Linked DNA regions of Homo sapiens: regions 2, 3 and 4 are each linked to region 1. Evidence: fine-mapped expression QTL. A gene starts in region 1. Each other region holds a variant in brackets. All regions are shown on one strand. Distances are from middle to middle. Region 1 holds the start of MAP4K3-DT (MAP4K3 divergent transcript). Region 2 overlaps MAP4K3-DT (MAP4K3 divergent transcript). Region 3 overlaps MAP4K3-DT (MAP4K3 divergent transcript). Region 4 overlaps MAP4K3 (mitogen-activated protein kinase kinase kinase kinase 3).

The links.
Region 2: its variant is fine-mapped to the expression of MAP4K3-DT in breast (GTEx, PIP 0.95).
Region 3: its variant is fine-mapped to the expression of MAP4K3-DT in lymphoblastoid cells (TwinsUK, PIP 0.95).
Region 4: its variant is fine-mapped to the expression of MAP4K3-DT in whole blood (TOPMed, PIP 0.97).

What each region holds. Positions count from the first base shown.
Region 1 is chr2:39,433,714-39,441,563 of GRCh38, reverse strand. It overlaps MAP4K3-DT (MAP4K3 divergent transcript), which reads right to left and starts at 4,148. Exons shown (of 6, transcript NR_037875.1): 1 at 4,029-4,148. It overlaps MAP4K3 (mitogen-activated protein kinase kinase kinase kinase 3), which reads left to right and starts at 4,279. Exons shown (of 34, transcript NM_003618.4): 1 at 4,279-4,672. The coding sequence starts at 4,577. RefSeq lists silencers at 4,026-4,245, 4,316-4,675 and an enhancer at 5,006-5,085.
Region 2 is chr2:39,486,955-39,494,804 of GRCh38, reverse strand. The region is part of intron 3 of MAP4K3-DT (MAP4K3 divergent transcript); the gene reads right to left. Among named protein-coding and RNA genes, the nearest start is that of MAP4K3-DT, 53 kb to the right of the region's middle. The variant A/G (reference allele first, on the strand shown) is at 4,174.
Region 3 is chr2:39,468,634-39,476,483 of GRCh38, reverse strand. The region is part of intron 3 of MAP4K3-DT (MAP4K3 divergent transcript); the gene reads right to left. Among named protein-coding and RNA genes, the nearest start is that of MAP4K3-DT, 35 kb to the right of the region's middle. RefSeq lists a silencer at 5,575-5,624 and an enhancer at 6,477-6,977. The variant G/AG (reference allele first, on the strand shown) is at 4,115.
Region 4 is chr2:39,362,530-39,370,379 of GRCh38, reverse strand. The region is part of intron 2 of MAP4K3 (mitogen-activated protein kinase kinase kinase kinase 3); the gene reads left to right. Among named protein-coding and RNA genes, the nearest start is that of MAP4K3, 71 kb to the left of the region's middle. RefSeq lists a silencer at 922-1,095 and enhancers at 4,549-5,115, 5,116-5,682, 5,683-6,249. The variant G/A (reference allele first, on the strand shown) is at 3,914.

The sequences.
Region 1 (7,850 bases):
TCTGTCACTCAGGCTGGAGTGCAGTGGTGCAATCTCAGCTTACTGCAACCTCCTCCTCCCAGGTTCAAGCGATTCTCATGCCTCAGCCTCCGGAATAGCTAGGATTACAGGCACGTGGTACCACTCCCGGCTAAGTTTTGTATTTTTTTTAGTGGAGACAGGGTTTCACCATGTTGGTCAGGCTGGTCTCAAACTCCTGACCCCAGGTGATCCACCCGCCTCGGCCTCCCAAAGTGCTGGGATTAGAGGTGTGAGCCACAGCGCCTGGCCATAAATAAAAATTTTTTAATTAAAAAAAGAAACCTGATTTTTTTAGCTCCATTGCCACCATCTCCCTCTGTCTTCAGAATTTAAGCACAATTGTCTGTTGTATGTGCCATATTATTTCACATACATGCTCTCTGTGTGATTTTCCTCCCCTGGTGGATGACCTGCTTCTGGCATTTTTTTGAGCTAAGGCTTGCTCAGTATCCTGTTTCCAGAGCAGCTAATGTACTGAAAATGTGAGTGGTGGTTATGTTATATGAGGAGGGCTGAGGTTAATAGGCCAAAGAAGGGGCTCCAGTGAGTTGTCAGACAAGAGGTCGAGGATGAAATTGGGAGCCTGTGCAGGGGATCAAGGGGTTCCTAAGCCAGAAACCCATGGGGGATGGGGCAATAGAAGGATGGCCTGGACATGCTGGCAGGTGGGGACTGCTGCCTATCTTGGCCTTCTTGTGTTCCTTGCTGTGTGATGCTTAAACGGGTAGGTGCTTCAAGGCGCTAAGCAGCCAGCCTGTCATGCACCACTTTCCCTTGTCTGCCTATGCATTTTTCAAGGTTCAGCTTTAGGGTTATTCCTTTTTTTTTTTTTTTTTTTTTTTTTGAGACGGACGCTTCCTCTGTTGCCCAGGCTGGAGTGCAATGGTGCAGTCTCAGCTCACTGCAACCTCCACCTCCCGGCTCAAGTGATTCTCCTGCCTCAGCCTCCCGAGTAGCTGTGATTACAGGGGACGTGCCACCGCGCCCAGCTAATTTTTGTATTTTTAGTAGAGATGGGGTTTCACCATGTTGGCCAGGCTGGTCTTGAACTCCTGACCTCAGGTGATCCACCCGCCTCGGCCTCCCAAAGTGTTGGGATTACAGGCATGAGCCACTGCGCCCAGCCAAGGGGTCATTCCTAAATCTTCCTCCCGTCTGCATTAATGTCCCTTCTCTGTGCTTCTCACACTATTTATGAGACTGTCAACTCCTTGAGGGAAGGCATTGTGGCTTTTCTTTTCTGTATTCAATACCACCAGAATCTAATAATCATTGCCTCTAAATACATTACAGGGAGGTAGAGGTTGGCTTACCATAAGAGAAATTTTTTACAGTATATTGTATATAAGCAGAGTATAGACTAGTGGCTAAGAATCTAGCCTTGGTGTCATACTGCCTTTGTTCAAATTTCAGCCTTCTGTGTTACCTTGAGCAGTTTAATCTGTCTGTGCCTCATAAAATGGAGATAATATTACCTATGTCATTAGGTTGTTGTGCGAATTAAATGAAATAACACATGAAAAATACTTGGCTCCATTCCTGGTATCTTGTAAGCACTTAGCAATGTTAGAAATTACTACTTTTCTCCTAGTTATTATGATCATTTACTAGCACTGTATCACAACGAGGTGGGTTGTTTTGGGAAGCAATGAGTCACCTTTTATTGAAAGTATTCAAGCAGCAGCAAATCCAGCAGAGATGCTGTAGAAGCAGTTCCTGAGTTAAAAAGATTAGATGACTTCTAAGAATGCTTCTAATCATAGAAGAGGGAAGCTCTTTCTCTGATTCTAGGAAAGTGTGATCATTAGTGTTACTTCTAGCAAAACTGAGGATTGTTAGAACAGGGGGAAAAGGCACTGGAATTGGCCACATGCATATATTACAAAAAACAAAATATTTTCTTTGTGAGCAGTTGTTTTACTTATGTTGTAACCCACATGGCAAATCAGGCCCTTACATGGAAATTCATCTCTTCTCAAAAGGACTAGCTTGGCCCTGCCAAAATGGAACAGACAAAACTTTAAAGACTGTTCTAGCCCTACTGAAATGTCTTTTCCTTTTGAAAGCAGTCTATTAGTGATGCAAATGCAAAGTTATTTGGACAGACGATAATCTCAGCAAACAAAACACTGAAGTCATTAGAACTTTCTTGTGCAGCTTTCAGTCCTGAGAATTTGGCTTTCTGGCACTAAAAAGGCAGAGGCCGGGTGCAGTGGCTCATGCCTGTAATCCCACCACTTCAGGAGGCCGAGGCAGGCGGATCATCTGAGGTCGGGAGTTCAAGAGCAGCCTGACCAACAAGGAGAAATCCCATCTCTACTAAAAATACAAAAATTAGCTGGGTGTGGTGTTGCATGCCTGTGATCCCAGCTACTTGGGAGGCTGAGGCAGGAGAATCGCTAAGAACCCGGGAGGCAGAGGTTTCAGTGAGCTGAGATTGCACCCTTGCACTCAAGCCTGGACAACTAGAGCGAAACTCCTTCTCAAAAAAAAAAAAAAAAAAAAGGCAGAGGAAAAGAGCAGACCTGGCTTCCATTTGGGATAATTTGTCAGGTCTGCTTATCTGAATCCTTGGCTAATTATTCTTGCGCTTGGCCTAAACATGCCAAACAATTCTCCAAATGTGGACAAACTGAAGGAAGGCCTGTAATCTGGGTCCTGGGCAAGTACCTTAAACAAGCAAAAGCAAGACCTTTGGCTATGGAATAACATTTATAGTCAGGAGTTTCTCAAGATACCAGAGCCTGAAGGTAGATCCATCGAGAAGATATTCAATGATATGCACTCCTAAGGCAATAATTTAAGTGATACTTTCATATTACTGATGCTTTAAAATTTAATAATTAAAAATTACACAACTGAAAGGCTACTTATATAGGTGAAGAGATAACCATTTTCAAACATCAATTTAGTCAACAGATACTCAAAGTAAACAATTTGAGAATTTAGTACATATGCAATTTTCCTATGAGCAAAAGGATTCAAAAGATTTTTTGAAAAAGTATGAAGCAGTTAACTCTAAGTAGTTTGCTCTACTATTAATTTATTATACTTATCCTTAACAGGTTTGATGAGACCTAGTTTCTCAGGAGCCACGAGGTATTAGGGAATATTAGTGGTTAGAAGGTGTGGTGCCTAAGGGGATTAGGAAAGCATTTCTGAAGCAAAACTCCAACGTGGTATTGCCAAAGTGGCCATCACCTAATTGATTAAAGCTCCTGCAAATGTCTATTGGGAAGTTCAATGAGAACAGAAAAATAACCTTCCATTACCCTCAAGCTTTCTTGGGCAAGTATTAACAATCGGAGCTGGAGTCCACATAGCTCAGATGTAAGACGCGCAATCTGGGTCTTAAGCAGGGTGGGGTTTTTGGGTAGGTAAGGTCACAGCTAAAGAGCTTCCGGATCGTCACGTGTTTATATTTCAGGTGCGGTAATAGATCTAGTCCACTCTCCACCCCTTCTTTACAGGGTTGCTTGACAGCCTGCGCAGTCCCCGCCCGTCTTTGATAATCCAACCCTCTTCGAAGAGGGAGGTCAATCACTGCTTTAGTTCTGCGCTCTGCCTGCCTCCCACGCGGGATGGTGGGCAGCTGTTCCGCGTGTTTTCCTCCCGGAGCTTTCACGCTCTGCCCACTGCACACACCTCCCTCGCGGCCCTCCTGGCCTGCCCTCCTTTGCACCCTGGCAGGCCAACTCCAAGGGTCCGAGTGTCGGTGACAGGGGCAAGCAAGCACAGCTCACTTTTCCTGGGGGTTTTCCTCACGGTGTGTTTAGTGACCCCTCCCCGCAATCCCAGAAAGGCTGCAGCACTCCATGGTATCCTACATGTAGCTGCTTCTAAAATAATAAAGGCTGGGACATTGGCTGTCTTGGATATTACCACTATGCTACCTGCTTGGAACTGGGACCAGATAGACCAAGGTCCAACTTTGTCGTTAGGGGAATCAGAAACGAAAAGAAGCCACTTTCTGCTAGTCCTAACCCCGGTCCCTGGGCCAGGCAAACCTTTTCAAGCGTCCGGCGGCAGCGGCCGGGCGCGGGTCCGCAGAAAAGCCGAGGCGTTTCGGGTCCCAAGCTGTTCCGCCGCCGGCCCCGGCCTGGCAGGCGCGCGGAGCCGGAACGCGCAAGGGGTCGGGTGCGCGCCAGGCCTGGCGCGCTCCCTCCGGGATCGCGGCTGCGCAGTCGGGCGGGAGTCGGGAAAAGGGGAGGAGGTTGGAGGAGCCGGAGTAAGGGGAGGGGGAGGAGCGGCGAAAGCGGAAGCCATGTTGGAGTTTCACCCCGAGCGAGGGGCTGCGAGGGTTCTCCTCTCCTTGTGGGTGTGACCAGGTTCGGCGCGGCGGCGGGCCGCGGGGGGCGGGGACGATTGGCCGCTTGTCGTCGTCCGCAGCGGCGTGAGGGGAGCGGCGGCGGCGGCGGCGGCCGCAGCGTGGAGCCGGGTGATTGTGACCGCCGGGGGAGCCGGGAGCCGGCCGCGGCGCCCTCTCTCCGTGTGGCCCCCTGAGCGGCCCCCCTCCCCTGCCCGGGAGGGAGGCGGGGGGCACCTGGGGCCCGCCATGAACCCCGGCTTCGATTTGTCCCGCCGGAACCCGCAGGAGGACTTCGAGCTGATTCAGCGCATCGGCAGCGGCACCTACGGCGACGTCTACAAGGTAAAGGCAGGGGCCGCGCGCCGCCGAGGCCGTGGGATCCCGACCCGCAGCCAAGCCTGGGCGTCCGAGCCCTTGCCGCCTGTCCTCGGGAGACGCTGGCGCCAGGGAGCAGTCGGGGAGGAGGAGCTGCGGACGCCAAGGGCTCTGCTGCCTTGGTGAACAAAGGGCCGAATGTTTAACCCCGAGACCTCCCCAGCCCTTACCTGAGCCCCCCCGGTGGACATGATTTTTGCCACCTCCCTTCTTGCGCGCATTTCCAGGGAAGGGCAGAACGAGAGCAGGCCACACTGCTCATCCATAGTGCAGAGAAGGTCTGGGCGTTTGTTGCGTTGGCAGGGTCAGCGCGACGAACCGGACAGCAGGGGTCTGGTGTTGTCAAACCTGCCTGCTTCACGCCAACCTGGGGTCGTCCGCTCTAGGTTGGGAGCTGCTGCCCACCAGGCCTCGGTGGTAGTTATTATACTATGCTGAGCGACCTCCATCTTCCATCGACAGCTCTCAGCCTTTAGCGCCTTATTCATCCCCCTGTCAGTTTCTTTTAATTTTCCAGAGTAATGACTTTTTTTTTTTTTTGGAAAGAGCAACTTTGTTTTCTCTAAGTCGAATTGGACTGCGATGCCATTTAAACTTGTTTTTTAAAAAGTGACTTGAATACTTAGGGAAGGTACTGGTTTGACAAGGTTAGAATTCAAAGTCCAGTAGCGGTACAGCATTCCTGTTGTAGAGGGACCACTTCTAAATGTGGGAAGATAAATCACTCTTCCCTGGCCAACTCAACTCTTGGCCTCACAGTTACTGCCAAGAAGAGAGGAGGTTGTTGCCAAATGTGGCAGCAGTCTTGATTTAGTTGTGTATCTTCTTACTGGTAACTGAAGTTGAACTCCTCCAGTTTCACATAACACCTGAGGATGCACAAAGAAACTTAATTTTGCATTGGAAAGTTCAGTCTTAACTTTATTTTGCCCATGTTTAAGCAGGTTTTTACTCTTCAGTGTAATGCCTGTGGTAACTTACATATTTAATACAGTGCAGCCAGTGTTCTGCTTTAGTCTGATTTTCTGGATGATCTACTTTTCACCATCGTGGATCTCATCACTTTTCCTACTATGCAATATAGATATATTGAGCCCACCTACAATGTATGAGATACTTGGCAAGTAAGCACTTTGGGTTGTAGCAGTAAACGATAGACTTGGTTCCAAATCTTCCTAAGTGTTTCTATTTTTTTGGACAAGGACAGTATTAAATAGCCATTTAAATAATTATTGCCGTTTAATTTTGTGATGCAGAAAAGAGTATTAGGATCAGGGTTATGAGAGCATGTAATAGGAGGACCTGATCCTGTTTAGGGTATCAGACGCTCATCGCCTTTCAGCTGAGATCTCAGAGATGATTAGGCGTTGCTTAGGGTACTGGGGAGAGGGGATTACGCCAGATAGGGGAGCATGATATGTGAAGGCTCTGAGGCCCGATGTGAAAGAAGGCCTGTATAGCCTGAGCAGCCAGAGCGGGAGGGTGGCCCTAGATCTTGCAGGCCTCTTAGTTCTCATTAGGAGATCGGACTTGTTTAGGACAATGGGGAACTATTGCAGGCTTTTAAGCAGAGGAGTGACATTAGATTTAGGTTTTTAAAAGAGCTCCCTACTACAGCATGAAGAGTGGAATGGAGCAGTTGGGAGGCCACTGTGATAGTCTAGGTAAGAATAATGGTGTTAAGGAATATGGTGATGACTGTGAAAGTAGAAGTGGATGGATGCAAGTCACTTATGACTGGTTGGGGGAGTTCGCTTATATTGCGATGAAAAGTTAACTAAAACTCGATGAATGTATACGTTTTAGGTGGCAGGGTATACAGTGAATTTTTTTACAGGACTAATTGGCTGTGTACTTGCTATATTAAAAAGAACAGTTAGTAGTTAAGCCACATGATTAAAAAGCAAAAAAAAATTAGGGCCTGTAATTTCCTAAGTGTAATAGAGGTATACTAAGTTGGTTAATCTTGTCATTCGTTTAAAATAATGATAATACTAGCTGATGTTTATGGAATGCTTGTTACTTGCCAGGCACTATAAGATTTTTCTAATTAATCCTAACAGCAACCCTGTGAGATAGGTGCTATTGTTAACTCCATTTTGCAGTTGAATAAACTGAGGCACAAGGAGATTAACTTGCCAAAGTTGGTAGGTGGCAAAGCCAAAATTTGAACCAATTAGGGACTGTATTCTTAACCAATTGGCAGTGCTGCCTCTCTAAAGATAGGAGATGGGCAGATAATGTATTACATTTCCAGTGGAGAAACTGAGGCACACATTTAGTTTAGCATTTGAGTTGTAGCCACACTCTGAGTCAGTGTAGATCTTTAAGTAGTAGTTGGAATACCTAATTCCTGCTGTGCCACAAGGTCTCACTGTTTATGTAGTCTGCCAAGTGGATATCAGATAATAGATGCTTGGTCCCTGCCTGCCAGACTCTTCCAATACCAGTGACCAAAGCAGAGAAACTTCATGTGGTTCTTGACATCATGTACCCCTGCCTGCCAAACTCTTGTTTATGTTTTTGTCTATAATCAAGTTTATTCTATAAAGTTACATTTTTTTGTTATTTGTTTTGCTGTTTTAGTTTTTTCTTATTTATACAAATTAATTGTGCTAGAGAGAAGTACATTTTGTTTTCAAAAGCCAATATATATAATTTGTTCCTTAATTTGTCAGCATTTACGTGCTAAAAATGGAATGATTGGATTAAATAAATAAGAGATCCGATTATAGTCATTCTTGGAAGGTTGGTGGAGATTTTTATTTTGAAAATGTTTTCCTACTCAATGTAATAACATATTTATTGTACTTAAGGTGGCGTGGTTTAGTTCCAAAGCACTGAACAAGGATGTGGACAATCTGGGATTTATTAGCTATGTGACCTTGTGAAATCAACCTCTCAGAGCTGTTTTGTTGTGGAGATATTATTACCATCATATGCCCTTCTTCTTTTGGTATTGACTAAATGACTCAAATTTTACTTAGTAAGTAAGTTATCTTTATTTTTTTCAGGCCAATGCATATATACATTTTATCTGCACTGTCTAAAGTCGTATCTTGTAAGTGTCGTGTAACTCTGCAGGCTTTATCTGTCATGAAGTGCCTGCAGCTTGGGTTACCTAGGGACCTAGGAGCTGGCAACT
Region 2 (7,850 bases), 53 kb before region 1:
TGGGGGTTTTTTGTTTTTTGTTTTTTTTTTTTTTTTTGAGATAGACTATCACTCTGTCACCCAGGCTGGAGTGCAGTGGCACGATCTCAGCTCACTGCAACCTCCACCTCCGGGATTCAGGTGATTCTCGTGCCTCAGCCTCCCAAGTAGCTGGGATTACAGGAGCACACCACCATGACTGGCTAATATTTGCATTTTTAATAGAAACAGGGTTTTGCCATATTGGCCAGGCTGGTCTCAAACTCCTGACCTCAAGTGATCCTCCTGCCTTGGCCTTGCAAAGTGCTGTGATTACAGGCGTGAGCCACTGCACCTGGCAAAGAGCACAGGTTTTGAAGTCAAACAGACCTATCTTCAAAGTATGTTTCTGTCCTGTGCCACATCTAAACCTTAATTCCCTAAGCTGTAAAAGATGATCAAATAGGCCAGGCACGGTGGCTCACACCTGTAATCCCAGCACTGTGGGAGGCCGAGGCGGGCAGATCACCTGAGGTCAGGAGTTCCAGACCAGCCTGGCCAACATGATGAAACCCCATCTCTATTAAAAATAAGAAAATTAGCCGGGCATGGTGACATATGCCTATAATCCCAGTTACTCCAGAGGTTGAGGCAGGAGAATCACTTGAACCCAAGAAGCGGAGGTTGCAGTGAGCCGAGATCATGCCACTGCACTTCAGCCTGGGTGACAAGACTGTCTGAAAAAAAAAAGGAAAATCAGGATTTCTAAGAGATATCTCTACTCTTACGTTCATTGCAGCATTATTCATGATAGCCAAGATATGAAAACAACCTAAATGTCCATCAACAGATGAATGGATGAAGAAAATATGGTATACATATACAACAGAATATTATGCAGCCTTCAAAACAAAAGGAAATCCTGTCATTTACAACATGAATGAACCTGAAGAACATTAAGCTAAGTAAACTAAGCGAGACACAGAAAAACAAATACTGTGTTGATTTCACTTATATGTAAAAACTAAAGTAGTCAAACTTAGAACAGCAGAGAGTGGAATGTTGGTTGCCATGAGCTGGAGGGATAGAGGAATGGGGAGATATTGGAAAAGGGTTACAGAGTTTCAGTTATCCAAATGAATGAATTCTGGAGATGTATTCTACAACGATGTGACTACAATTAGCAACACTATATTATATACTTGAAATTTGCTAAGAGGGTGGATCTTAAGTGTTCTCACCACCAAAAAATAAAAAAGAAGGGAAAGAAAGGAAGGAAGAAAGAGAGAGAGAACAAAAGAAAATGGTAACTATGTGAGGTGATGGATATGTATATGATATATATGCATATTATATATATATGATTTGATATGGATATATGCATATATATGCATAATTGAAATATGTACATATTTAAAGTGTACGACATGATTTGATATGCATATATATGCATATATATCCATATATATGCATGGATATGGATATGGATATATATGCATGGATATATATGCATATCAAATCATCATGTTGTACACTTTAAATATGTACAATTTTCAATTGTCAATTATATCTCAATATGGGAAAAAGTCTTGTCATGAAGGAGATGCTTAATAAATAGTAGTTAATGTTATTATCTTTGATTGATTTGTCTTTGAATAAATTTCTGTGGCCTAAATGAGGAAGCATATTCAAGGCATATATCCAAATATTTGTAAGAGTAGAGGAATGTTCTTAATCCAAATTATATGCACCAGTATTGCTCACTTGAGTGGAAGGAAATTATAGAATGGAGTATTAACTTCCTAATGACTAGACAAAATTAGTTGAGTAAATTACCCAATCAGTTCAGGAGAAGAAAATAAAAACCTGATTCAAAGGGTTTTTTTCCCCTCTGTGGGTTCATTTTATTGCTGCAACCCTCTAATTTGTTTTAGTTATAAAGACATGGCCATTTCATTTTCAGTTTCACCCAGGAACTAGAACTATATTTTGAAATAGGGACAACTGGATTTAGAAAATCACTTTTGTACAACTAGAACTCATTTACAGCTAGTTATTCAAATATCCAGTGACAGCATAATAAAAATTTAGGGCCTTCTTTTAATTAAACACTCCAGTTTACAATTCCCTGGAAGTAGTAACACATATTTGGAAACTGCTCTCTTTCGTGTTTTTAAAATAGCATCTAACATTAAGACAGTAATTTATTAAGAAATAACTTGCTGATCTGAAAGTGTTGATGTGATTTCAAAATGTCTTTAGAATGCATCCAACTCGATGAGACTTATATGCATGGATTTGGAGAACAAGGAGCTTATCATAGGACTTTCATAGCCCTCTCAAAATGGCAAATGAAGATAAACTGCAGAAATAGGGACTGCATGTTGCAATCAAAAGGGAACCTGCCCACAGACTGAAACAAACTTGGAAAACAAATGAACGGAAGATTAAACAGTGAAGTCTAAGTACTATCACTTCTTCCCCTATGATTAAAGCCTGACAGGCACCATGAGTCAAACTGTAAATATATACTAGTTATCATAGACCTCACTGGGTTTATGCGTCAGTAAACCACAGCTGCCTCTAATTTACCATTGAAACATGTTTTAGGGAAATGAAACTAGCCACCACCTCCTTTCATGCATGTGATATACTATTCATAACCAAGCCCTAATGACAGAAGAGAGCATTCTTAAAATAGTCTAATGGCTTTTTTGTATTCAACAATACAATCCCCCTATATTTTTTATACCTAACTCACCACATATTCAAGAATTTTCCATCATGTGCTTAACTTTAAATTTTTAAATGGTTTTCTTCACCTGAGCTGGCAGCTTTACTATTGCACTAGTCCAAACATATAGATGGGAGCGTCCTTAAATATGCAGCAAGACACACGTGATATAAATAGGAGGAATCATAGTATAGGACCACCTAATAATAATAAAGCCAATGTTTACTTAGTGCTTACTATTTACCTAACATTGTGCTAAGCACTTTTGAAGAATTATTTTGTTTAATCAGCAATTCCAACAAGACAAAATTCCAGTGTCCCAGATGATAAGACTAGCGAAACTTAAAAATCCTAATGTTAAAAAATTAAACCGCTAAGTGAAAATTAGTTTTTCATGGGTGATTTCTTGGCAATTTATAAAATTTAAGTTTTCCTAAAATTAACTGTAAACTGATACATATTAATCATACATAGCAAATGTCTACAGTCAAATTTTAAGCTATTTCTCTGCTTTATTAGCCATTTATATCAGCTTTTATACGAAACTTCCTTTTCATAGGTGCAATTGAAGACAAAGGATCAAAGCTTTTTCACTGGGCACGGTGGCTCATGCCTGTAATCCCAGCACTTTGGGAGGCCGAGGCGGGCAGATCACGAGGTCAGGAGATCGAGGCCATCCTGGCTAACATGGTGAAACCCTGTCTCTACTAAAAATACAAAAAATTAGCCAGGCGTGGTGGTGCACACCTGTAGTCCCAGCCACTCAGGAGGCTGAGGCAGGAGAATGGCGTGAACCCAGGAGGCAGAGGTTGCAGTAAGCCAAGATCACTGAACTCCAGCCTGGAGGACAGAGCATGAGACTGTCTCAAAAAAAGAAAAAAAAAAAGTTTTTTGTACTTTAAGCTAACTTTCATGAAACTATCCTATCATCAGAAACCCACTGCCAGTGGGCACAGTGGCTCACGCCTGTAATCCCAGCACTTTGGGAGGCTGAGGCAGGTAGTTCACTTGAGGTCAGGAGTTCAAGACTAGCCTGGCCAACATGGTGAAACCCCATCTCTACCAAAAATAAAAAAATTAGCCAGACGTGGTGGTGCGTGCCTGCAATCCCAGCTACTCGGGAGGCTGAGGCAGGAGAATCACTTGAACCTGGGTGGCAGAGGTTGCGGTGAGCTGAGATTGTGCCACTGCACTCCAGCCTGGATGACAGAGTAAGACTCCATCTCGAAAAGAAAAAAAGAAACCCCACTGCCACCTCTGAAAGATCTTCGGTGATTTGGGCCATTCATTCATTCCTCAGACTTAACCACCAACTGCACACCACACCCTGGGGATACGAATAAGACATGAACTCCACCTTCAAAACACATTCAGCCTGCTGAGAGAGATATAAACAAACCACAGCAAATATAATGCACAATATCATATAACAGAGGTAGAGAGAATGGAGGTCAAAAGGAGAAAGTAATTGAAAAAAAGGC[A/G]ATTTTTGGAAGGCTTCACAGAAGCAGTGACACTAAAGGTAGCATCTTTTTTTTTTTTTTTTTTTTTTTTTGTGAGGCAGCGTTTCACTCTCTTGCCCAGGCTGGAGTGCAGTGACCCAATCTCAGCTCACTGCAACCTCCGCCTCCCAGGTTCAAACAATTCTCCTGTCTCAGCCTCCTAAGTAGCTGGGACTACAGGTGCACGCCACCATGCCAGCTAATTTTTGTATTTTTAGTAGAGATAGGGTTTTACCATATTGGTCAAGCTGGTCTCGAATTCCTGATCTCAGGTGATCCACCCACCTTGGCCTCCCAAAGTGCTGGGATTACAGGCATGAGCCACCTCGCCCAGCCTAAAGCTAGCATCTTAAATGTAGATGAAAATCTGTGATGTTCAGTATGTTCACTCTACTTTTTTTTTCAAAAGATGAATTACCTTTTCATTAATGTTTCCCTTTTTTTTTTTTTTTTGAGCTGGAGTCTTGCTCTGTTGCCCAAGCTGGCGTACAATGGCGTGATCTCAGCTCACCGCAACCTCCGCCTCCCATGTTCACGTGATTCTCCTGCCTCAGTCTCCCAAGTGGCTGGGATTACAGGTGTGCACCACCACACCCAGCTAATTTTTGTACCTTTAGTAGAGACAGGGTTTCACCATGTTGGTCAGGCTGGTCTCAAACTCTTGACCTCAAGTGATCCTCCTGCCTCAGCCTCCCAAAGTGCTGGGATTACAGACATGAGCCACCATGCCCAGCCAAAAGATGAACTACCTTTTTAAAAAAGCATAGGATTGTCGCCAGGCGGAGTGGCTCATGCCTGTAATACCAGCATTTTGCGAGGCTGAGGCGGACGGATGACAAGGTCAGGACATTGAAACCATCCTGGCTAACACCGTGAAACCCTGCCTCTAGTAAAAATACAAAAAATTAGCCGGGCATGTGGCGGGCGCCTACAGTCCCAGCTATTCGGGAGGCTGAGGCAGGAGAATGGTGTGAACCCCGGAGGCAGAGCTTGCAGTGAGCCGAGATGGCGCCACTGCACTCCAGCCTTGGCGACAGTGCGAGACTCCGTCTCAAAAAGAAAAAAAAAGGCATAGGATTATGTATCTAATTTACCTACTATTCCATTACTATTTTACATCCTATTTCTGAATTTCTGTGTCTTCCGCCACTTATCTTGACTTAATTTTTTTCTTTTAAGTAACTAGTCATATTGTTGCACTATCCACATAAAAATTACTTCCAAAGACTTGTGATAGAACCCAGTGATGTCACACCTAGATATATAACTCTCACAAGGAGACACATACAAAAACATTTATCATGCATTGTTTGTAAGGGAAAAATAATGGAAACAATTTAAAGATCTATCAACAAAAGAATGAATAAACTGTGGTCTTTTTATACAATGAAATACTATCTAGCACTTTAAATAAACTAGAAGATGTGTATTGGCCTGACGCAGTGGCTCACACCTGTAATCCCAGCACTTTGGGAGGCTGAGGAGGGCGGATCACTTGAGACCAGAAGTTCAAGACCAGCCTGGCCAACATGGCAAAACCCATCTTTACTAAAAATACAAAAATTAGCAGAGCGTGGTGGCAAGCGCCTGTAATCCAGCTACTCGGGAGGCTGAGGCAGGAGAATCGCTTCAACCTGGGAGGCAGAGGCTGCAGTGAGCCAAGATCGTGCCACTGCACTCCAGCCTGAGAGACAGAGTGAGAATCCATCTCAAAAAAAAAAGAAAAAAAAAAAAAAGATGTGTATTAGGGGCCAACCATGGTGGCTCACACCTGAAATCCCAGCACTTTGGGAGGCTGAGACAGGTGGCTCACTTGAGCTAAGGAGGTCATGACTAGTCTGGGCAACATGTGAAACCCTGTTTCTACAAAAAATACAAAAATTAGCTAGGCATGGCGGCGTGTGCCCGTAGGCCCAGCTACTTGCAGGGCTGAGGCAGGAAGATTGCTTCAGCCCAGGAGGTCAAGGCTTCAGTGAGTCATGATCACACCATTGCACTCCAGCCTGGTGAACAGAGTGAGACTGTTTAGAAAAAAAAAAAAAAGATGAGTATTAATACATGTTGAGTGAGAGATTAAGAAGAAAGCGCATAATATATCATTTAATGATGAAAAACTTGCAAATCAACTTTATGTCTTATGGATACATATATAGTATAAATATAAAAAATAGCTGGGTGTGGTGGTGTGTGCCTATAGACCCAGCTACTTGGGAGGCTGAGGCGGGAGGATTGCTTGAGCCCACTAGTTCTGGGCATCATATAGTGACCTCCCAGGAGCAGAGGGCTACCTGGTTGCCTAAGGAAAGGTGAACCCACCTGTGTGGGAAGCAGAGCAGGTCAAAACTCCTGTGCTGATCATAGTGGATTGCACCTGTGAATAGGCACTGCCCTTCACCCTGGGCAACACAGGAAGACTCCAGCTCTTATTAAAAAAAATTTTAAATAATATAAAAATACACAGAGGAATTAAAACTCTAAATTCAGGGTAGTTGTCACCCTGCAGATCACAAGAGAGGAATGAGATAGATTGGTTTCAGGGGTTTTAACTACATCTATATGATTTTAACTTTGTCAGCACTTCTGGTGGCTTGTTGAGGAAAAAAAGGTTTTAACTTGGAAGAAACAGAGGAAAGGGGAAAAAAGGGAGGGAGGAAGAGGGCAAAAGGGGGAGGGAGGGAAAAAGGGAGATCTGAAGCAAATATGGCAAAATTTTATTACATGAAATACTATCTAGCACTTAGGGCTGGATTGTAGATAGATGATTTTTTGTCATATTATTTTGTATGCTTTTCTGTCTGTTTGAAATATTCTATTGTAAATAGATGTGCTAATCTTTATAATAATAATTCATGGTATTATTCACCAAATTTAACAGCCTAACAAAAGTTTAGAAGTAAAAAATTAGCAAGTGGCACATATTTTCCAGTTCTACTAGTAAAGAAACTTGTTTGCATCTGGGGAAGATAATATTTGCGGTGTAACTTCCCCACTCCCTTTCCAGCACATCCTTAAAGGACTCAAATGGAATGTCGTCCTATGACAAAGAAAAGTGCTTGTGCATATTAACTCCTCTGCTGCTGAACCAATTTGTGACAGGATGAAAGCGCTACTAGGAAACAAAGTGAAGAAGGATGGACACTCTATTCAGTATTTATAAATTTCTAGGTTTTTCCTTTTCAAGCCCCCTTAGAATCTTTACGAAAAAGGTCAACAGTTTAGCATGCCTCCAAATGAAAAATGTTATGTTAATGTATTTGCTAATAAATAATTCATTTCAGAGGCAAAATTAAAGGCTCAAGTTGGTAAATAAAGCATCCAGCACTATATCCATACGTGGTCTCTGACATCAAAATAGGATGAAGGGCCGGGCATGGTGGCTTACTCCTGTAATCCCAGCACTTTGGGAGGCCGAGGCAGGTGGATCACTTGAGGTCAGGAGTTCGAGACCAACCTGGCCAACATGGTGAAACCCCATCTCTACTAAAAATACAAAAATTAGCTGGGCGTGGTGGTGTGTGCCTGTAATCTCAGCTACTCAGGAGGCGGAGGCAGGAGAATCACTTGAACCCGGTAGGCGGAGGTTGCAGTGAGCTGAGACTGTGCCACTGCACTCCAGCCTGGGCAACAAAGTGAGACTCCATCAAAGAAAGAAAGAAAGA
Region 3 (7,850 bases), 35 kb before region 1:
AGGAAGCTAGATTACGAACTGCAGAGAAGCAAATGCTAGTTGATTTCTAGTCAAGATGGGGCTTTGAGGACCACGCCAATCCAAAATGATAGTGATAATAGATTTAATATAAAATGGGAAAAATGTAAGGCATTTTCACACTTAAAAACATCTCCATAGCCCAGAAATGGAACAGAAACAATATGGTAAGTAGCCTGAAGATGTAGACCAGCTCAATTCTGCCAACAGCAAACAGAGGCATCCAGGGGCAAGACTCATACAGGGTACTAAGAACTAAATAACCCATGTGAGGCAGAAGACTCACATGAAATCAAGGGCTGGGATAAGGCTACCCCCTTGAAAGGAATTGCCTAGGGCTACAGGCTTGTAAACATCTGTATACCTAGGGACATGGAAGAACCAGGCATAGTCTTAAAGACGGAATTTGACCCTAGAGAAGGAACTGGATCTACAATACTATAGGATAAAACCGAGGTCTAGGCCTGGGAGGCCCAGAAAGTAGGTAACGGCAAAACTATGAGACCAGGAAGGTTAAGCCTAGGGGGACAGGAAGGAAGGAATGAAGGAAGAGAAGAAGGAACAGAGAAAAGGAGAGAGGGAGAGAAATAAGAAAGACTGCCAAAAATAGAAACCACAACATGGAGAAGCATTCACACCAGGTAAAAACAAAATACTAGAGTATCTGAAAATTACTTCTTTAAAAAGAATTTGTTCAAGACTTTCAAAGGAATTAAGCAGAGGAATAACATTCATAAAAATTATGAAGCACGAACCGTCAGAAATAAAATAGCTATGATTATGAAGAATAACAAATTAAAATCCTGAGAATTAAAAATACAGTCATAGAAAAGTTTTTTTTTGTTTTGAGACAGAGTTTCACTCTTGGTGCCCAGGCTGGAGTGCAATGGCATGATCTTGGCTCACCGCAACCTCCGCCTCATGGATTCAAGAGATTCTCCTGCCTCAGCCTCCCTAGTAGCCGGGATTACAGGCGCCTGCCACCATGGCCAGCTAATTTTTTGTATTTTTAGTAGACACAGGGTTTCACTATGTTGGCCAGGCTGGTTTGGAACTCCTGACCTCAGGTGATCCACTCTCCTCAGCCTCCCAAAGTGCTAGGATTACAGGTGTGAGCTACCATGTCCAGCTCAGTCATAGAAATTTTTAAAAGAAAGAAAGAACAATGAATAGGATAAACTCTGAAATGAACACACTTAGAAAATTGGGAAATAGTACAATATTGCTAAACTGACCCATGACAAAATATTGCACCCGCAGAGTTAAGAGACATATACGGTAGGCAGGGAGACCTCAACATACCACTGCTAAGAGTTTCTGATGAAGAGCAGTTTGGTGATTAATACATTCATTTATTCTTTTTTTTTTTTTTCAGATGGAGTCTCGCTGTGTTGCCCAGGCTGGGGTGCAATGGCGCAATCTTGGCTCACTGCAACCTCCACTTCTTGGGTGCAAGTGATTCTCCTGCCTCAGCTTCCTGAGTAGCTGGGATTATAGACGCGCACCACCATGCCCAGCTAATTTTTGTATTTTTAGTAGAGATGGAGTTTCACCAGCTTTGGCCAAGCTGGTCTCAAACACCTGACCTTGTGATCCACCCATCTTGGCCTCCCAAAGTGCTGGGATTACAGGCATGAGCCACCACGCCTGGCCCATTTATTTAATTCTTAGAATGAAAAAAAATATATTGGCAACAAGTATCCAACTGAAGAAGCTGAAAAGAATGTTAGTGAAAATCCAAATAAAGAGGAAGAAACTAACATGCAGGCACAGAGATTAATAAAACACACACACAGATACACACACACACACACACACACACACACACACACACACACCAGAAGTGAAAAATGAAACAAAAAGCTAGTATAGTCGGCTCTCCATCTGTATCTGCAGTTTCCACATCCACAGATTCAACCAATTGTAGACAGAAAATATTCTGAAAAATAAAAAATAACAATACAACAATAAATATGCAAATAAAAACAATATAGCATAACAACTATTTACATAGCATTTATATCATATTAGGTATTTTATGTAACCTAGAGAAAATTTGAAGCATACAGGAGAATTGTGCAGGCTATATGCAAATAGTATGGCATTTTACATCAAGGACTTGAGCATCCTTGGATTTTGGTATGCAAGTGTGTCCTGGAACCAATCCCCCACAAATACCAAGGGACCACTGTACTTTGAAAAAACTAATTAAATTGACACACTTCTATTAAGGCTGATCAAAAAGACAAGAGAAGGCACAAAAATATTAGGAAAGAAAAGGTAATATAAACAATTCAAGTAAAATTTATAAATACAACTTTTTTTTTTTTTTTTTTTGAGACAGGGTCTCACTCTGTCTTCTAGGTTAGAGTGCAGTGCCATCATCTAGGCTCACTGCAGCCTCAACCTTCCAGGCTCAGGCGATCCTCCTCAGCTCAGCTTCCTGAGTAGCTGGGACTACAGGTATGTGCCAGCACATCCGGCTAATTTTTGTATTTTTTGTAGAGAGGAGGTTTTGCCATGTTGCCCAAGCTGGTCTCAAACTCCTGGGCTCAAGCAATCTACCCACCTCAGCCTCCCAAAGTTCTGGGTTTTACAGGCATGAGCCACCGTGCCTGGCTACAAATACAAGCTTTTTAATTCTTCAGAAAATATTGCTGGGCACGGTGGCTCACACCTGTAATCTCACCACTTTGGGAGGCCGAAGCAGGTAAATCACACGGTCAGGAGTTTGAGACCAGCCAGTTCGAGATCAGCCTGGCCAACATGGTGAAACCTCGTATCTACTAAAAATACAAAAATTAGATGGTTGTGGTGGCAAGCATCTGTAATCCAAGCTACTCAGGAGACTGAGACAGGAGAATTGCTTGAATCTGGGAGGTGGATGTTGCAGTGAGCCGAGATCGCGCCACTGCACTCCAGCCTGGGCGACAGAGCAAGACTCCATCTCGGAAAAAAAGAAAGAAAGAAAGAAAGAAAATGTTATTTTTCAACCTCATGCTAATAAACTTGTATACATGGATTTAGTAGAAATGTTTTTAAACAAATACAAATTATCAAAATAAACTCAAGAAGAAATAGGGAGCCTGAATAGATTTAAAAAAATCAGTAATAGATCAAACAACAATCAATCAAAATTATTACTTATCAATAAATATCAGGCCCAAGTGTTTTTGTTTTTTTTTTCAGATGGAGTTTTACTCTTGTTGCCCAGGCTGGAGTGCAATGGCCCGATCTCGGTTCACTGCAACCTCCACCTGCCAGGTTCAAGCGATTCTCCTGCCTCAGCCTCCCAAGTAGCTGGGATTACAGGCATGCACCACCACTCCTGGCTAATTTTGTATTTTTCGTAGAGACGGGGTTTCTCCATGTTGGTCAGGCTGGTCTCGAACTCCCGACCTCGGGTGATCTGCCTGCGTTGGCCTCCCAAAGTGCTGGGATTATAGGCGTGAGCCACCGAGCCTGGCCTCAAATGTTTTTTTACAAATGAGTTTTATCAAGCTTTCAATTAAGAAATAGTAGCTATCATACAGGAACTACTTTGTAAAATTGGAAAGAAAGGAGGTACTATCCAATTCACTCTATGATTCTAGGGTAGCCCTAACACCCAAAACAAATGGCAGTAAAAATATTACATACCAAACTCACTTATAAACTGAATTGAAAAGATCCTATAGGCTGCTCTGTCTATGGAGTAACCATTCCATTTTATTTTATTTTTTATTTTTATTTTTATTTTTTTGAGACGCAGTCTCACTCTGTCACCAGGCTGGAGTGCAGTGGTGTGATCTCGGCTCACTGCAACCTGTGACTCCCTGGTTCAAGTGATTCTTCTGCCTCAGCCTCCCGAGTAGCTGGGATTACAGGCATGTGCCACCACACCCAGCTAATTTTTGCATTTTTAGTAGAGACAGAGTTTCACAATGTTGGCCAGGATGGTCTCGATCTCCTGACCTCGTGATCCGCCTGCTTCGGCCTCCCAAAGTGTTGGGAAGTGTTGGGATTACAGGTGTGAGCCACCACGCCCGGCTGGAGTAGCCATCCTTTTATTCCTTACTTTCTTAACAAACTGCTTTCACTTAAAAAAAAAAAAAAA[G/AG]AAAGAAAGAAAGAAAGAAAAAAATAAAAGACCCTATATCTCTAATTAGAAACCTTAGGAAAAGATAAATTCTAAATAAAATCCTAGTCAATTAAATTCAAGAATGTATTTTAAAAAATAAAAATACCTCATAACCAAATAGAATTTACCCCAAGAATATAAGAATGTTTTGACATCAGAAAATATCTATATATTTGTTCATAATATTGCCTACATACAGAAAAACACACAAAAAAAACCCTCTATGGAATTTTTTAAAAAAGACATTCTACAAAAGTAAACATTCATTCATGAGTTAGTAAATTTTGTATATATTTTATTAGGATAAATTGTCCTCTGACCATTTCTTCATTCATTCATTCTTTGTTTCCTTCCTCCCATCTACCATTAAAAGCAAGGCTATAATAAGTATTTTCCTACAGTCTCTTTATGCACACATAAAATAACCTCTCTAGAGTGTATACTTAGAAGGAGCATTGCCTAGGGGAAGGATCTGCTCATCCTCAAGTATTTATAAATTGTAAAGGTTTGTACAAATTTACACTGCTACCAGCAGTGTATGGGAGCTTCCCCATATCAATGCCAACATTTTCAATACTTTTTACCCGAAATGAATGGGGATAAAATTTATTTATGAATTCTACCAATATTTATTGAGAACTTAGTATGTGTCAAGAACTGGAAAAGAGTAGTAGGTAATGAGGTGAAAAAGGTCATGGTGTGCAGAGGATGCATGTGGCACCGTTGTCATAACTTTGGCTTGAAGTGACATGAAAAGCTATTGGAGGATTTGATTCAGAGAAATGGCATGATTTGACTGTTTTGTAAGAATCACCCTGGCTGTTGTGTTGAGAACAGACTATAAGGAAGCGATGAAGGAAGCAGGGAGACTAGTTAAGAGGCTATTGCAGTAATTCAGACAAACAGATGATGGGGGGTTGGACCACCATAAAAATACTTCATTTAAAAATTTTGTATTTCCCAGAATTGCAGTGAGACCATGTTTATGACCATGGGTAGAAAAGGCCTCCTGAAACAATACAAAAAATACCAAAGTCATAAAGAAGAGGATTAATAAATTTTACTATATCAAAACTTTACATCTGTTCAACAAAATGAGATTCAAATCCAAAGGAGAGACTGGGTGAAAGTATTGTAATGTATGTAGCAAAGGACTTGCCTTTATATGTCCCCAGAAAAAAGACAAAATTGAAAAATGGGCAAAGAACATAAATAAGCAATTCACAAAGAAGGAACATGAATGGCAAACGAGCATCTGAAAAGATGCTCAGTCTTACTGGTTTTGGGGGGAAACAAAAAGAAGAGGATGCTATTTTTTATACATTGGATTGACAATAAATAAGAAAGACTGATGTGTTGGGAAGCATCTGGAAAAACAGACATTCTCTTACCGTATTCCTGGGAATATAAACTGGCCAACCTTTTTGGAGTACACATTGGCAGCAATCCTTCACACTTTGGATGCGCCTATCATTTGACCCAGCAATCTCACACCTTGGTATCCACTGTAGAGAGATACTTGCATATGTGCAAAAAGGAAGCAGGTACAAGGTTGTTTCACTATAGTACTATTTATAGTGGTAAAAACTGATAGCATAGCAACCTAAATGATCATCGAAAGACTGACACTTAGTGATGCATCTGACTTATGTGAGAGCATGCAGCAGTTGAAAAAAACTAAAATGTACTGACACAGAAAAATCTCTGAGAGATATGGCTAAACTTAAAAAAAAAAAAAAAAGCAAAGTTGAAGAACAATCCACTGTGTGATACCATTTCAGTCAAAACAAAACAAAGCAAAATTCCCTCACTGGCTCTCTCTCTGTCTGTGTATAGATATAGATAGATAGATAGATACATAGATAGATAGATAGATAGATAGATAGATAGATAGATAGATACATATACACACATATGTAGATGCAGATGTATGTACACAGATAGATCAATAAAGATATATAAATAACTAAAAAGATGAAAAGACACACTCCAACTTGAAATCAGTGTTTGCTCTAAGGAAGAACCTGAAATAGGGGTTGAAGGAGTAGGAGGAAGAAAAAGTTTTTATTCATCTTTCTTATGTGATTTTCTTAAAGATTCCTTGAAGCTTCACTATGTGTAGGAAAAGACCTTCCCCTTTCTAAGTTACTGTTCAGTGTCAGGCATCTGGGCCCCTGCACTGCATTCCAGACTAGCTGCATTTCTGGTGAAGCCAGTGATTCATCTGAGCATGCCCTGGGCCAGCCCCAGGTGCAGCTATTCTGTGCTTTATTCTAGGCTCAATATCCACCCAGACTGACCTTGGGCAAATCAGTTTCAGTTCCTTTCTCTTATCTAGCTCAGTTGTGGGGCAGTTACCTCACAATGGGATGAGAACGAGGATGCAAGCAAAGTATTCTATAAGCTGCCTCCTCAATCTTCTCAGTGCCTCTGGTAACCAGCCAAGCCAGTCTTGGCCGTGTGGAGGTGGACACTTCAGGGGAAATGCTTGCTGACTTTGTGCACTATTCGGGCAAAAGGGCAAGCTGGGGATACCATTGCTGGAAAATTTTTAGTGCAACCAAGTGTTCCCTACCCATCTGGCCAGCTAGATACGGTTTTTCTTGCACCCTTTTTCAGTAAATGTAGAGCAGATAAGACAGCCTTTTACCCCACAGATTAAGCCCTGGAGAGATCATCCATAAATTACAAATATAGATTGATTTGGGGTGGGGGTGGGGAGGGAAGGCAGGAGAGGACCTAAATGCCATAAACAAACTCCTAAGGAGAATGCCATGAATAAAAACTTCCTGTACCAGTCAGCAGCATCCTAATGAGAGGGAGTTCACATGTGTACAACAGCTGTGTAAATTATAAAGCTTAAAAGGTAGAACTAACCGCATCATACTACTTCCAAAACACTCGATTCCTTCCTTCTTTCTTCTTTTCTACTCCAAAATAACCTAAAACAATCCTATAACAATTACAAACTGGGGGAAAGGCAAACCATTCTGGGAAAGAAAAAAATAGCAGCTGCTCTAGATATCATTTTCAGATTTTGGCTAGGATTGTTTAAGTTATTTTTTATTTTCTTTTATTCTTGGCTGGCTTGACAGTCCTTCAGGATTTCAGCTGATTCCAAACACAGCTCAGTAAAGATCATTCCAGAGAAGTTTCATATTCCTAAGATTCCTTAAATTTCTCTTTCTTTTAACTTAGGAAATTAGGTTGAAAGAAGATGAAAAACAGCCCAGATTGCACCATTTCCTATGCAAGTTTCTTGCAAAGCAAGCTGTGTCCCCCTTTCCAACAAGAACAGAGAGACATAGTTCTGACTGGGAGGTGGGCGGTGGGTCCTCTGGAGCAGCAGCAGGACTATTTGTCTTTTGAAAATGCCCCAGCAGGCCCAAAGTCTGTCTGAAAACTTTTTGTAAAGGAGGAGGAGAAAAAAAAAATGAAATTCTAGTGAGCTAACCATCTAAAAAAGCCAGTGACTGCACTGTGGACTTCTTTCATGCAAGAAATATTTATTTTGCACCTAGGTGTGCCAGGCTCTGTTCTATATACTGAAGAGGGAGCAATAAAGACAACTAAGTGTCTGATTCCCTCAGAGTTTCTGTGCCTGGGGACTGTTACAGGAAAGCGGTCCTGATCCAGACCCCAAGAGAGGGTTCTTGGATCTTGCGCAAGAGAGAATTCAGGGCAAGTCCACAGTGCAGAGCAAAAGCAAATTTAT
Region 4 (7,850 bases), 71 kb after region 1:
GATCCCTTGCCACCATGTGCTTATTCAGTGCTGCCTTGTGTTTATCGCCATCATGAATAGAGTAGTTGTTACATCATTCATGATAATTATTCTTCAAAGGTTAATCATGGATAGCTTAGTCACTCTTAAATTTATTAGAATCATACTATGACTTGAGGCTGACTGAGCTGGAGAGATTGAATATTTACACATTGAAAGGTAATAATGCTCCAAAATAAAAAAGCAACTGACAAAGGACTTTTTGTTTTGTTTATCTGCAGTGTATTTCTTATTCTCAGTCCTCTGTTTATGACCAGTGATTTGGCTTCAAGGATGTTTATTTAGTACTTAATTTAGTTAGAAGGAAGATACGGAGATATGGTTCCTGCCTTCCAGTAACTTGTTATCCAATGTGAAAACTAGAATGTTTATGTAAGTAGCAGCCTAACTACGGAGAACCCATTGAGCAGAGTGTGTGTGCATATGTAGGTGGTGGTGCTGGCAGTAAGGAACGGTGATGGCTGTGACTAGAAAGACTTAATTCATGGGTCACTGAAGATCCGCCTTTGACTATTTACTCCGAAATACTCTGGGTTGGGAATATCTAGGTAGGATGCTGTGTGAAAGAATACACATAGTGCAGAGTGGCTGATGTAGCCTAACTTATATTTGGTGGGTTCCATAGAAGCTGTGAGTTCCACTTCCCTTGGGATAAGGAAGTAAAACTTCAGATGAGCCTTCAAGACTGGCTAGGATTTTGCTAGTAGAATAAGAGAATGGAGGGTATTCCACATGAGGATAGTATAAAAGCAAAGGTAGTATGAAAGTACTAGGCCTGTTTGGAAGTAGTAGTTTGATTTGTCTAGAGTAGTATGCTCTATGTGAGCATGGTGGGAAATAAGAAGTGGAAAACTGATGATAGTTTATGGAAAGCCTTAAATACTAGCCCAAAGCAGCCAGGCCCAGTAGCTCACGCCTGTAATCCCAGCACTTTGGGAGGCCGAGGCGGGCAGATCAGCTGAGGTCAGGAGTTCACGATCAGCCTGGCTTGGTGGCTCGCACCTGTATTCCCAGCTACTTGAGAGGCTGAGGCAGGAGAATCACTTGAACCTGGGAGACGGAGGTTGCAGTGAGCCAAGATCACACCACTGCACTCTAGCCTGGGTGACAGAGCAAAACTGCATCTCAAAAAAAACAAAAAAAAAAACTAGCCCAAAGGTTTAGATTTTACCCTGTAAAACAGTGGGATTTCGTTTGTTTTTACAGGTTAGTAACATGGTCAGAGTATAACTGTAGGCAGATTCAGTGTACACAGGCAGATGGGAGAGAAGCCCTGCTGGTGAGAAGACATGTTACTGTTGTGACAGCCATGCTTGAGTTATGTGCAGAGGGAAGGAAGGGGTGACTGCATGAGATTTTAGGGTGGATAGAACTTAAAACGTGATTGATAGGTTACAAGGGATAAGGGAGAGGTACGATATATGTAAAAATTGAGTTTATGGGAAGAATAGGTTTGTTGTTTTGATTTTAGAAACTCATTTTCATGAGTTTTATACAGCTGTGGTTTATGCCTATGTAACCTCAAGAACAGATCAGGAGCTGCTAAAAAAAATTATCTTTAAATCAGATCTGGTGAGAGAACAGAAAGTTGAGAAATTAAAAACGTCCAAAATTAGAACTATTTTATTTAACTTTTTTTCTTTTTTGGGATTTTTTTTTTCTTTTTCTTTTAGAGACAGGATCTCACCCTGTCACCCAGGCTGGAGTATAGTGATGTGATCATAGCTCACTGCAGCCCCAACTCCTGGGCTCAAGCGATCCTCCTGCCTCAGCCTCACTACTGGTTGGTATTAACAGGTGTGCATCACCACACCCAGCTAATTTTTTAGTTTTTTTTGTAGAGACTGGGTCTCGTTGTGTTGCCCAAGCTGGTCTCAAACTCCTGGCCTCAAGTGATTGTCCTGCCTTGGCCTCCCAATGTTCTGAGATTACAAACATGAGCCACTGTGTCCAGCTAAAACTATTTTAAACAATATGTCATTGTTCTTGTTGGTGGGCATGATAAAAACAGAAAATTTTTTGCCCATTGTATTCTTCACTTCCCTTAAAATCTACACCGTGCTCTATTTTTCCTTTTTCTGTCCTTACTCCAGAAACATTTTTTGAGTCTACTATAATACTTACTTTACATATAGAAACTGTAGGGTTGCTGCCATAATTTTTAGTAGGCAGGGGGCGCGATATACTCCAGAGGATTTTCACTAGAAATTCAGTCCTGAGTTACGGGTACCTTCCTTATTTTGGGCCTTCCATCAGAACCACTCGGGTAAACCTGGCTCTCAAAAGAGCTGGATCCAGGTAAGAAAAGGAGACCAAACAGGTTTATAGGTCAGGAAGCTCAAGTTAAGCCCTCCTTCCCTGACTACCTGGACACAATCCATTTGCACTAGAGAATGTTTTCTCAAATATTCCTTTAAAATAAGAAAGGAGTGGAACTGGTTCTTTGGGATGAAAAAAATCTTAATTCTTTTTATGTACAAAGCACAGATATATGTATGTATATATGCATAATACATAAACATGCAGAATATCTGTGGTATTAAAATTTCTTGGGGAGAGGCATTAGGAAAACAGAGTTGGGAAACACAGCATTAGGGTAGACATTTTTTCTTTTTATCTTAAAGTTGAGGTCTCACTATGTTGCCCAGGTTGGATCAAACTCTCACCTCAGTCCCCCAAATATCTGGGACTACAGGCTTCCAACACCATGCCCAGCTCTAGAGTAAGACTTTTTTTTTAGGGAGCCAGGGCCATGGTTTCTTTCTTTTCTTTTTCCTTTTCCTTTTCTTTTTTTGTTTTTTTAGATAGAGTCTCATACTGTCACCCAGGCTGGAGTGCAGTGGCACAGTGACAGCTCACTGCAGCCTCAACCACCCAGGCTCAGTCAGTCCTCCCATTTAAGCCTCCCAAGTAGCTGCGACTACAGGCTCACACCACCATACCCAGCTTATTTTTAATTTTTCTACAGATGAGGTCTCACCATGTTGCCCAGGCTAGTCTGAAACTCCTGGGCTGAAGCAGTCCACCTGCCTCAGCTTCCTAAAGTTCTGGGACTACAGGTGTGAGCCACTGTGCCTGGCTTCTTTTTTTGTTTAGATAGTTTGAGCAAGGGAATTTCTACTTGGCTTTGTGGAACCCAAGTTCAAAGGCCATTCAGTAACAATGTATGTAAATGTAAGTGATACTTATCTTAAACATTAATCAAGAACACTTACTAAAATACAGCCAAACAAATAAATAGACTCTAAGTTATTTTTATCAGGTGAAGTATTTGAAGGGTTGTTTTCTTCATTCTCATTTCTGAAAAAAATACAAATATTGCTGTTTTAATCATTTTTTCATTTGTTTTGAAATAAGTAGGAATCAATAGGATTATTAGATACTTCCTTTGTATTTCTGTGTTATTGATCAGGGCTTTAATATTTCTTCAAAAATTCAAAGTTGGGTGCTGCTTCTGTGGTTTTAGAAAAGTTTTTTCTAATTTTATGTTGTAATTACTTAAGCCAATTTCTTATCTTTTTAAAGATTAGCCAGTGGGTTTCAAGATACCCTGATAATTTAATATAGTGTTTCAGAGTATTTCCTGGTACTCCAGTAGTTTGACACAGTAATTGACAACTTAAGAGAAGTTGGAATGTTAGCCATAGATTACTGTGTAAACCAAAAAATAAAGTTCCAAGGCCTCCCAACCATCTAAACGAACCCCTCCACTGGGCCAAAGGCATTCCGAAGTTACCCTGAAAAATTCAGGCCATGATGGAAGCAGAGGTGGAACTACGCCCTCTTCCCTTTCTGAATTCAGGGAAAGCTGACTGGTATTAACATCAGTACAGATCTTACATCTCAAGAGAAACATTTCTTCGTCTGAAATTTC[G/A]TCTGAAACATTTACGTCTGAAGAGACGCCTACTACCTGGAGGTTTCATCTGCATGATAAAACCTTGGTCTCCGCAACCCCTTATCAGAACCCAGACATTCCTTTCTATTGATGATAACTCTAAACCAATTGCCAATCAGAAAATTTTTAAAATCTCCCTCTAACCTGGAAGCCACCACCTCCACCCCCACCCCACCACCCTGCTTCAAGCTGTCCCACCCTTCTAGATCAAACCAATGTAAATCTTAAATGTATTTGATTGATGCCTCAGGTCTTCCTAAAATGTATAAAACTAGGCTGTACCCTGACCACCTTGGGCATATGTTCTCAGGTCTCCTGAGGACTCTTTCATGGGCCATTGGTCACTCATATTTGGCTCAGAATAAATCTCTTCAAATATTTTACAGAGTTTGACTCCTTTCACGAACAACTGAAGTACTGTTAATTTCATTTATTGTTTCTACCATATGAAATGGAGTTTAGAAATTATGTATTTTGAATGACACCACACATGAAATTAAAAGTTAATTTGAAATTGACTTTAAAACACTTTTACATGTAACGTAGATGTGTGTTCTCACTTCTCTGTGTTTAAAATAGAATGGAAATGGGAAGATTTGAGAGTGAAATACCCATAACAATGGCATGAGAAACCTTGTTGATTTTTCGTAGTCTAAGCTTACATTTTTCTCTTGGCTATAGGACATTTTAAAAATTACTATGGGCCGGGCGCGGTGGCTCACGCCTGTAATCCCAGCACTTTGGGAGGCCGAGGCGGGTGGATCATGAGGTCAGGAGATCGAGACCATCCTGGCTAACAAGGTGAAACCCCGTCTCTACTAAAAATACAAAAAATTAGCCGGGCGCGGTGGCGGGCGCCTGTAGTCCCAGCTACTCGGGAGGCTGAGGCAGGAGAATGGCGTGAACCCGGGAAGCGGAGCTTGCAGTGAGCCGAGATTGCGCCACTGCAGTCCGCAGTCCGGCCTGGGCGACAGAGCGAGACTCCGTCTCAAAAAAAAAAAAAAAAAAAAAAAAATTACTATGGCGTAACCCAAAAATAAAATTCTAAGCCCCCCAACCGACTGATGGAGGCTCTCCTCAGCCAAGGGCATTCCAAAGTTAACCTGAAAAACTAGTTCAGGCCATGATGTTACCATCATAATGAGACTCCGACATCCTCATTATACCCTCCTCCCTTTGGAATTCAAGCTCAGCTGACCAACATTAACATTTAAATAGAGATCTTAAGACTAGTGAACAGACTTTTTATAGCAATAAGACACAGAATTCCAGCCTGACTCTAGTATAGCATCACATGACAGATAGCAGGCCCTGAAAGAAATAGAAGTATTTTATCCCAAGTATATTTCTTTGATATATTTTGAAATGGTCCTGCAAAGCCGTCTCTTGTGGGGGAAATCTGTATTCTATAGAGGATTCATTTTTCCTTTCCAGGTCTTTTTCCTGATCCAGGAGAGAATTAACTGAGTCTGGCACTTCATAGGTCTGACAAAAGCTCTGAAGTCTGCTACCTGGAGGCTTCATCTGCATGATAAAACCTTGGTCTCTGCTACCCATTATCTTTTTTTTTTTTTTTTTTTGAGACAGAGTTTCTCTCTGTTGCCCAGGCTGGTGCAGGGGCACCATCCTGGCTCACTGCAAGCTCTGCCTCCTGGGTTTATGCAATTCTCCTGCTTCAGCCTCCCAAGTAGCTGGGATTATAGGCATATGCCATCACGCCTGGCTAATTTTTGTATTTTTAGTAAAGATGGGGTTTCACCATGTTGGCCAGGCTGGTCTCGTACTCCTGGCCTCAGGTGATCCACCCACCTTGGACTTCCAAAGTGCTGGCATTACAGGCGTAAGCCACCGCACCTGGCCCACCTTACACGTTTTGATTGATGTCTTATGTCTCCTTAAAATGTGTAAAACCAACCACTTTGGGCACATGTTCTCAGGATCTCTTGGAGCTGTATTACAGACCACTGGTCATTCATATTTGGCTCAAAATAAATCTCTTCAAATATTTTAGAGTTTGTCTCTTTTTATCAATGGTGGTAAAAACACGTCACATGATACCTATTCTCTTAACAAATTTAAATATTTAGTACAGTATTGTTAACTATAACCATTATGTTATACATTATGCTCTAGAATATTTTCATCTTGTGTGACTGAAATTCTTTACACATTGAACAGCAACTCCTAATTCTTACTTCCCCCAGTCTCTGGCCATGACCATTCTGCTTCCTGGAGTGCAAATGTCTCTTTGAGATTCTAATTTCAGTTCTTTGGGGTATATACCCACAAGTGAGATTGCTGGATCATATTGCATTTCTATTTTTAATATTTAGAGGAACTTCTGTACTGTTTTCCATAGTGGCTACACCATTTTACATTCCCATCAACAGTGGACGGGGGTATTCATATCCTGGACAACACTTGCTATTGTCTTCTTTTTTTTTTTTTTTTTTATAATGGCTATCTGAACAGGTGAGAAGTGACATTATGTTTTTGATTTGCATTTCCCTGAAGACAGTAATGTTGGGCATCTTTTGATATAGATCTGTTGGCCATTTGTATATCTTTTTTTGAGAAATTTCTGTTCAAGTCCTTTGCTCTTAAAAAAAAAATCCCCAGTATGATTACTGTATAAATGACAAAAATTGTATACTGTTTGTTTACAGTTTACAACATGGTATTCTGATGCATATGTATGTTGTGAAATGATCAAATCAAGCTATTTCATATATCCATCACCCATTCAACCATAGCTCTTTTTTTTTTTTTTTTTTTTTGAGACAGAGTCTCACTCTATTGCCCAAGCTAGAGTGCAGTGGCACAGTCTTGGCTCACTGCAACCTCCACCTCCTGGGTTCAAGCAATTCTCCCACCTCAGTCTCCAAAGTACCTGGGATTACAGACACCTGCCACTATGCCCAGCTAATTTTTTGTATTTTTAGTGGAGTCTGGGCTTTGCCATGTTGGCCAGGCTGGTCTCAAACTCCTGACCTCAGGTGATCCACCCACCTCGGCCTCCAAAAGTGCTGGGATAACAGGCATGAGCCACTGCGCCGAGCCCTTTGCTCGTTTTTGAATCCAGTTATTTGGTGGGTTTTGTTTTGCTGTTGCATTGTAGGAGTGCCTAGTAACCCCTCATCAGATATATGGTTTGCAAATATTTTCTTACATTCCATAGGTAGTCTTTTAATTCTGTTTCTTGTGCTGTGCGGAAGCTTTTTAGTGGTGGAATTTCAGTTGTCTGTTTTTGCTTTTGTTGCCTGTGCTTTTAATGTCATATCCAAGTAATAATTGCCAAGACTAATATTATGAATGTTTTGGCCTGTGTTTTTCTATAAGAGTTTTATGGTTTCAGGCCTTGCATTTAAGTATTTAATTAATATTCAAGTATTTAATAAATTAAAGCTGAATTTTTTGTGTATGTAGGATAACGTCCAATGTCATTCTTTTGCATGCTGCCATCCAGTTTTTCCCAGCACCTTTGTTGAATACTGTTTTATCCCATTGCATAGTCTTGGCATCCTTGTGAAAGAGGATTTGACCTTATATGCATGTGTTTATTTTGGGTTTTCTTTTCTCTATTCCGTTGGTCTATATGTCTGTCTTTATGCCAGTGCCATATTGTTTGATTGCTGTAGCTTTGTAATATGTTTTGAAACCAGGAGTGTGAGACCTCCAGCTTTTATTCTTTTTTCTCAAGATTGTTTTGGCTATTTGGCGTTCTTTGTGGTTCTATCTAAATTTTAGGATTGTTTTTTCTATTTCTGAAAGAAAAAAGTTGCTGTTTGTTCTCCAGATTACATTGAATTTGTAGATCGCATTGGGTAGTACGAACATTTTAACAATGCTCTTTCAGTCCATAAACATGGCATGTCTTTACATTTATTTTTCTAATTAAACGTTTTGTAATTTTCAG